2 linked regions of the Homo sapiens genome follow. The protein of the gene in region 2 purifies or fractionates together with the protein of the main gene of each other region. This does not show direct contact. Each region holds a gene or a part of one and is shown on either strand. Other genes may lie near its edges. The genes, in order: AMD1 and FTO.

The links.
Region 1: the proteins of FTO (region 2) and AMD1 purify together in Homo sapiens (affinity purification with western blotting, with the first as the bait; one study listed by BioGRID). This does not show direct contact.

The regions. Positions count from the first base shown.
Region 1 is NC_000006.12:110,880,967-110,884,989, forward strand, and holds part of AMD1 (S-adenosylmethionine decarboxylase proenzyme), read left to right. Parts: intron 1-4,023.
Region 2 is NC_000016.10:54,113,156-54,116,655, reverse strand, and holds part of FTO (alpha-ketoglutarate-dependent dioxygenase FTO), read right to left. Parts: 3' UTR 1-3,500.

The sequences.
Region 1 (4,023 bases), on a different chromosome or scaffold from region 2:
GTTATAATATAATTATCTTGTCCCTGTAGACATTTCTAAATTCTATTTTTATTAGACCTCAGCCTCTAAGAAAATGTTTTAAATATAAAATGTGGCATGCCACTAAAGTGTTGTTTTTCAGACATACAATTTGTGTGCTGTTATTAATATAGAACATCTATTTTTCTTTGGGATCATTTATCATGATCTCTGATTATATTTAATATTTTAGTATCTAGTCTTTAAGTGAAATTAGGGTATCTCAACCTCAGCATTCTTGACATTTTGATTCAGATAATTCACTGTTGTCAATGACTATCCTGTTAATTATACCGTGTGTAGCAGTGTCCCTGGCCTCTATCCACTGCATGCTGGCAACACCACCACCACCCCAGTTGTGATAAAAAATGTCTCCAAATGTTGCCACATGTCTTCTGGGTGGCAAAATTACTACAAGTTGAGAACCACTGAGTTAGATCAGAGAGGTGGCATTTAAGATGAGAAAAAGGAATTCAAATCAGGAAATACTCAATCTACATATTTCTTTGTGTTTTATAACCACCTAAGAATTGTGTGCTTCGGGCCAGGCATGGTGGTGCATGCCTGTAATCCCAAATCCCAGCACTTTGGGAGGCCGAGGCGGGTGGATTGCTTGAGGTCAGGAGTTCGAGACCAGCCTGGCCAGCATGGTGAAACACCTTCTCTACTAAAAATACAAAAAAAAAATTAGCCTGACATGGTGGCAGATGCCTGTAATCAGTCCCAACTACTCGGGAGGCTGGGGCAGGAGACTTGCTTGAACCTGGGAGGCGGAGTTTGCAGTGAGCTGATAGCATACCACTGCACTCCAGCCTAGGTGACAGAACAAGACTGCATCTCAAAAAAAAAAAAAATTGTGTGCTTGAATAGCTTTATAATAATTTCTAATGACTAGATCAGTATTACGTGAGCTGTAATGTGAACAAATCCCAAAATCATCTTGCTATCTTGCTTCTCTTGATTCTGCTTTATATCCATCAATTTGATTTATTGACTCTTTAAATAGCAAGGATTGCCAAATAGATCAGTTTTATAAATAGTTTATAATAGACTAGTGCTTCAAAGTCTCAGTTTGTAGTGTACTTGGGAGTGAAGCAGAGACAAGACCACTATCACTACTGAGCCTGATAAAACATTCTAGCTTAATACTATCTTTTCTATTTTTGACACACAGTCTCACTCTGTCGCCCAGGCTGGTGTGCAGTGGCACGATCTTGGCTCACTGCAACCTAATTTTAAAAATGGCTCTGTCGACTGTATAAAGCACTTTGTCTTTTCCATCATTAATTTGATCAGAAAGCAGACCACTGAAAACCTTTCCTCCAAAACAAGAGTCAGCAAACTTTCTGTAAAGGACTAGGGAGTAAATTTTAAATTTTGCAAGGCAGACAGTCTGTTGCAATTACTCAGCTCTGCCCTTATAGGGAGAAAATAACCATAGTCAATGTATAAATGAATGGGTGTGGCTAGGTTCCAGTAGAGCTTTATTTACAAAAGCAGGCCATTTTTTCCCACAGAAATGTGATAGAAATAATTTGTGCTGAAATTTTCAGCTGTTGCAGAGTTTTTCACCTCTTTTATGTACATGTATAGCATTGTATTGACTACTTTTTTCTTTCGTCTATTTTGCCCTCTGATTTATTTTTCTTGAGCTTAGTAGCTCTGGTAAATGCCTTTATCATCACTAGGTTGATAGACAGTTTAACTGTTTGTCCTAGGTTGCTTAAAGTAATTGCTTTCTTTTGATACTATGATTGAAAAATTCTGATTACCGGAGCATTACTATTAGTTGAGGAAAGGTTTGAATGGAGAATTTTATTAACTGATGATGAGTGAGTATAAGAGCATTTTGAAGCCAATGGGTTGGCACGTGCCTATAATCCTAGCACTTTGGGAAGCTGAGATGGGAGGATCTCATTAGCCCAGGAGTTTGAGACCAACCTGGGCAACATAGGGAGACCTCATCTCTACAAAACAATTAAAAATATATTAGTAAGGTGTAGTGATACATGCCCTGTGGTCCCAGCTACTTGGGAGGCTGAGGTGGGAGGATCTCTTTGAGCATGGGAGGCCAAGGCTGCAGTGAGCTGTGATTGTGCCATTGTTCTCCAGCCTGGGTGACAGTGAGACTGGCTCAGAAAACAAAAGGTTATTTCTCTGCCATTACAGAAGAAGCATGCTACACTGTCTTCTCTTATTAAAATGCAATTAATAAACCCTGGACAGAATGCATTGTTGAGCAGCTATCCAAGGACTCTGAGAAGTAAATTTTAGCAGGTGAAATGGAGAAGAAAGCCAGAACTTTAAATTCCACTGAACCAGCAGTGAATTTCCTGTTTTTTTTCCCCTGTGGTATCTCCTCGCTGATTTCTCCTGGGCTTGCCAGAAACCCAGAACTGAAAAGTAGGGGCAGGCAAAAATAGTTCCAAGAAAGGCTCTCTAGTTCTCCTCTGCAAAGAAAGAATGAGAGGCCCCTTTGAATCAGAGTGGAAGAAATCTCTTTTTTGCTTTTGTTTTGTTCTATTCTGCCCCAATCCTCTTGTAGGCCTTTAGCAGCTGTGGCAGTTAGGCAGATGTCTAAAACAACGAGAGAAGGGAATCATTTTTTGTTTGTTGTTTGTTTTTGAGACAGAGTCTTGCTCTGTAGCCAGGGCTGGAGTGCAGTGACACGATCTCGGCTCACTGCAAGCTCCGCCTTCCGGGTTCATGCCATTCTCCCGCCGCAGCCACCCAAGTAGCTGGGACTACAGGTGCCCGCCACCATGCCCAGCTAATTTTTTTTTTTTTTATTTTTAGTAGAGACGGGGTTTCACCTTGTTAGCCAGGATGGTCTTGATCTCCTGACCTTGTGATCCTCCTGCCTCCCAGAGTGCTGGGATTACAGGCGTGAGCCACTGCGCCCGGCCAAAGCCCTATTTTTATAGGTAGTGGATGAAGAAGAGTCCTTCCCCTATCCCCTATGTGAGTCAGGCATTGTCAGAGAGATTATGGAAGGTTGAAGAAAGTAAACCTATAAAGTTTTATATGAACACTCCTTAGCCATTTTGCATGGATCTGACCCTAAACAGCACATCAGAGGCTTTGAAAACTAGAATACACAATAGACTGCCTCTCCAGGGCCAGCCTGGCCATTGGGTGGCAAATAAGTGGGGCAGATGCAAATAACATAGCAAAGGAGTTCATAACAAACCTGACACTGGAACCATAACACAACCTAGAAACATTGAGTAAAAACTTGAAGCCTAAACCAAACCAGATTGTCTGCTGAAAGTTTTTAAAAATCAAGACCTAGAATGATGTAACATGTCAAAATATCCAGGATGCCATCCTAAATTAGTCAACATACTCAAAACCAGGAAAATCTTAACATCTCAAAGGAAAAGACAGCAGACACCAACCTCAAGGTGACATGGACCAAGACTTTAAAGTATCTGTGCTACAAGTTGTAAGGGTGAATACTTTGTTTTAAGAGAGGGTCTTGCTCTGTTACCCTGGCTGGAGTGTAGCGGTGTGATCATGGTTCACTGCACCCTCCATCTCCTGGGCTCAAGCAAACTTCCCACATCAGCCTACCGAGTAGCTGGGACTACAGACCTGCACCACCACTCCCAGCTGCCTTTTTTCTTTTTAAGAGACTGGCTATTGCTATGTTGCCCAGGCTGGTCTTGAACTTCTGGTCTCGTGATCCTTCCTTCTTGGCCTCTGAACCACAGTGCCTGGCCACAACAGCCTTTAAAAAAAGAGAAAACAAAAATAAGAAAGGAAAAGACTGTTACACTGTTTAGTTCAGCCATGGAACGTGTTTAAAAGTCTTAATAGAAATGGTGAATATAACTGAGAAAGGGAGGGTGGGATTTGTTAGTGCGTCCAGTGGGTAAAAAGGAGTATGTGCAAGAATAAGTTATAGTGGGAAGTCAGTAGGTGATGACTTAAGCAGGTAGCATTATTGATGGACCTGAATTAGATAAGCTCTTTAAAAATCTGAAATTGTAATGTTTCTAATAC
Region 2 (3,500 bases):
AGGAAGTCATTCTTAGCCGGCTTCCCCTCCTCCCACCCATCCTCTGCAAGCTGCCCGGCTTTCCCTACAGCCGCAATCATCACAACACGCCTGTGCCGTCTCTCCCCTTTATGGTTGTCAAATTGATTTCACCACCGCGATACCTATGGCTCCCAATGAAACTTAATTAAAAATACCATTTAATCACAGAGTAACAAAGGCAAACGGGATAAACGGCATTACCACTTCGGCGCATTTTAATCCACACCGCTCCTCTCCATCTGAATCTGTCTGGATGAGAATTGCCTTTTCAAACCAGAATCCCCTTGTCTTCCATGTGCTTGCCTCTGACAGATCTCCAAAATAAACAGTTTTTAGCGTGGCATGGATCCAAATGTATGCAATTTGCCCAGTGGTAAAATCAGCCCTAACTAGAGCAAGAAAAAAAAAAAAGAAGTTGCATTTGAAAATACCTTCCTTCCCTCGAAGCATACAAAAAACCGTCTACTGAATGTGGGATCCGTTAAACGGGTCCTATGGACTCTCAATTCTGGCATCCCTGGATTCAGTGGAGTGATGGGTTTTGAAGCTTATTACTAAAATTGTGTCACCAATGATGCCATGACCCTGCTCTTTTATGTCTAGAAAGCTCTGTGGGGCTGGAGCCTGCCAGTGAGGGCGTCAGGAATGGATCTGCTGGGGTGTGGAGGGGAGGGGCTGTTTAGAGTGAACTCTGTAGGCAGGCAATCTAGAGGGGCCGCAGGCCATCTTGAGATCTCACCCAGCCAGGGGGACATTCCCAGTTGGAAAGCCGCTCCTTTGGATTAAGCTGTTTGCTCTCTCAGAGACCCTCTGGAATCCAGATAGAGCGATGATCTAATGCATAAAAATATCTCACCAAGTTACTTCCATGCCCTTGCTGCTTGAAACCCTCTCATGCTTCCTGGGGTGTGTGGAATAAAACCCGAGCGGCTCCCGTCTGCTCTGCCCTACATCTCCCCTTCTCCCCTCCTGGTCTTCTCGGCTTCAGGCTCAGGGCCCTTTTCCTTCCTTGGGCACCCCCTCCCAAGGCTCTCCTGCCTGGGCCCGCCGTCCCCTTTCCTGGGAAGCTCTTCCCAACCACCTCCCTTCCCCACAGCCTGATCAAGGTCCCCTTGGTCAGTCACCATCTCCTCTTGTCCCTCTCCCAGTTGGTTCCCTTCCTGGCACTTACAACCATCTGGAACACTCTTGTTATTGATTTGCTGCTTACTGTCTATTTCCCCACTATGGGGTAAGTTCCTATTTTGGTGACTACATATCCCAGGGCATCCACTAGCCTGGGAGGCAGAGATCTGTCTTGGGTCCCCAGGCTTGCCTCATTGCTGAGGCTGTGGTCAGCACCAAGAAACATTCATGGGAGGAAGGGAGGGAGGTAGGGCAGTCAGTAGCACCTCATTGCAAAGGGATCTCTTAGATCACTTTTCTCAAGAGACCTGGGACCACAGGGAGGACTGGCAGGAAAGCAGGAGGGGGCTGCTGCTGATGGAAGTGGTCCCTTATCCGCACACATGGGGAGAAGGGTGCGATTTCTGGGCCTGTGCTTCCAGGAAAGTCCTTCTCCAATTCACAGCAGAAGCAAGCCTTCCTTTGACCCTGCAGGATACGAGTTCATTGTCATTGCCCGCACCAGCTGCTTTTTTATTGGGTCTTGCCCACCTCCTTCTACCCACCTGAAACCTCCCTGGAGAGCACATGAAATCCTCAAACACATGATCAATGAAAGTCACCATTTCTTTCTTCTCTCGCTCCGTGGCCCAGGCTGGAGTGCAGTGGCATGATCTCGGCTCACTGCAACCTCCGCCTCCCGGGCCAAGCGATTTGCCTGCCTCAGCCTCCCGAGTAGCTGGGATTACAGGCACACACCACCACACCCAGCTAATTTTTGTGTTTTCAGTAGAGACGGGGTTTCACCGTGTTGGCCAGGCTGGTCTCGAACTCCTGACCTCCAGTGATCTGCTGCCTCAGCCTCCCAAAGTGCTGGGATCACCATTTCTTTAGAGCAAATGTGATCTCACCTTTCGGATTCACTTAAAGTAGTGATTTCTCCAACCCTGTTGCACATTCCCTGACTCCACCTGGAGGACTTTGAGAACTAATTCCACCTGGGCCCCACCCAGGACAGTGAAGCTGGCTCATCCATGCAAAAGGAAAAAAACAGCAAAATCTCTCGGTTTCTTATCTCATCCTTTTAATATGTTTATTGGATATGAATATTTTATGATGCAAATGACATTAGTACAAGCAGTCTACGAATAGAGTTCAATAGTCACACACATATATTGGGGTAAGCACAAAATATTTCGACTAGAGGGGTGCAAGCAAGCAGGTTTGGAGAGCACTGACATGAAAGGGTGATGCAGGTCAGGTTCACAATTAATGAAAAAACGGAGAAAAAGAGGGAGTATGGCAAACCATAGGCTGGGTCATGCCCCAACTCGCAGTGGGAAGATGCTTATTTAGCTTGCTGCCATGCGAGGATGGGGGCCTAGGACTATTGGGTGTTCTGAGTTCTAAAGAAAAATGCAGACCTTGGCTTGGCGCGGTGGCTCACGCCTGTAATCCCAGCGCTTTGGGAGACCGAGGTGGGTGGATCACGAGGTTGAGATCGAGACCATCCTGGCCAATGTGGTGAAACCCCATCTCTGCTAAAAATACAAAAATTAGCTGGGCGTGGTGGCACGTGCCTGTAGTCCCAGCTACTTGGGAGGCTGAGGCAGGAGAATTACTTGAACCTGGGAGGCAGAGGTTGCAGTGAGCTGAGATCGTGCCACTGCACTCTAGCCTGGTGACAGAGTGAGACTGTGTCTCAAAAAAAAAAAAAAAGAAAAGAAAAAAGAAAATGCAGACCTTTTAATTTTATGTGAAATCTCCCAATTTTTAAATATGGGCACCTAATGGGATATAACAAAAAATGAACATCATAGGGGCTAAAGAAAACACTGGGCTGGATGGCCCGAGGGTGCCCCATCTGTGACTTTTAAACACCACGCCCTCCTGGTCTATGTTATTTCATTTATTTCATTTAATCTCTGTAATGACCCTGTGAGACACTGCTTCACTTCTCTTTTACCAATGAGGAAACTGAGGCTCAAAGACACCAGGGAATGAATCCAAGGTCTGAGAGACTCGAGTCTCAACACGATGAGACCCTGGCTGCTTTGCTTAATGTGACATTTCTGTGGCTATTAACTGCATTCATGGGAATGAGTGCAGGCCGTGAACCACTGCAATTCTGGTGGCAGGAAAGAGTTTATTCTCAGTGCACCTTCAATAGGCAAAAGCTCTTCAACTTCTCAACTACTGTGAACAACTACACGAGAAAGCAACAGGCTGGGGAGACGGGGGGCTAACTATTCTCACGATTTCTTGGGACACCAATGGGCAGGAGCCAGGTCAGAAAGGGAGAGATGTGTTAATGGCATCACAAGACAAAACTGGCGGAGGGGTCAGCAAGAGAGAGGAAAACATCTACATCCAGG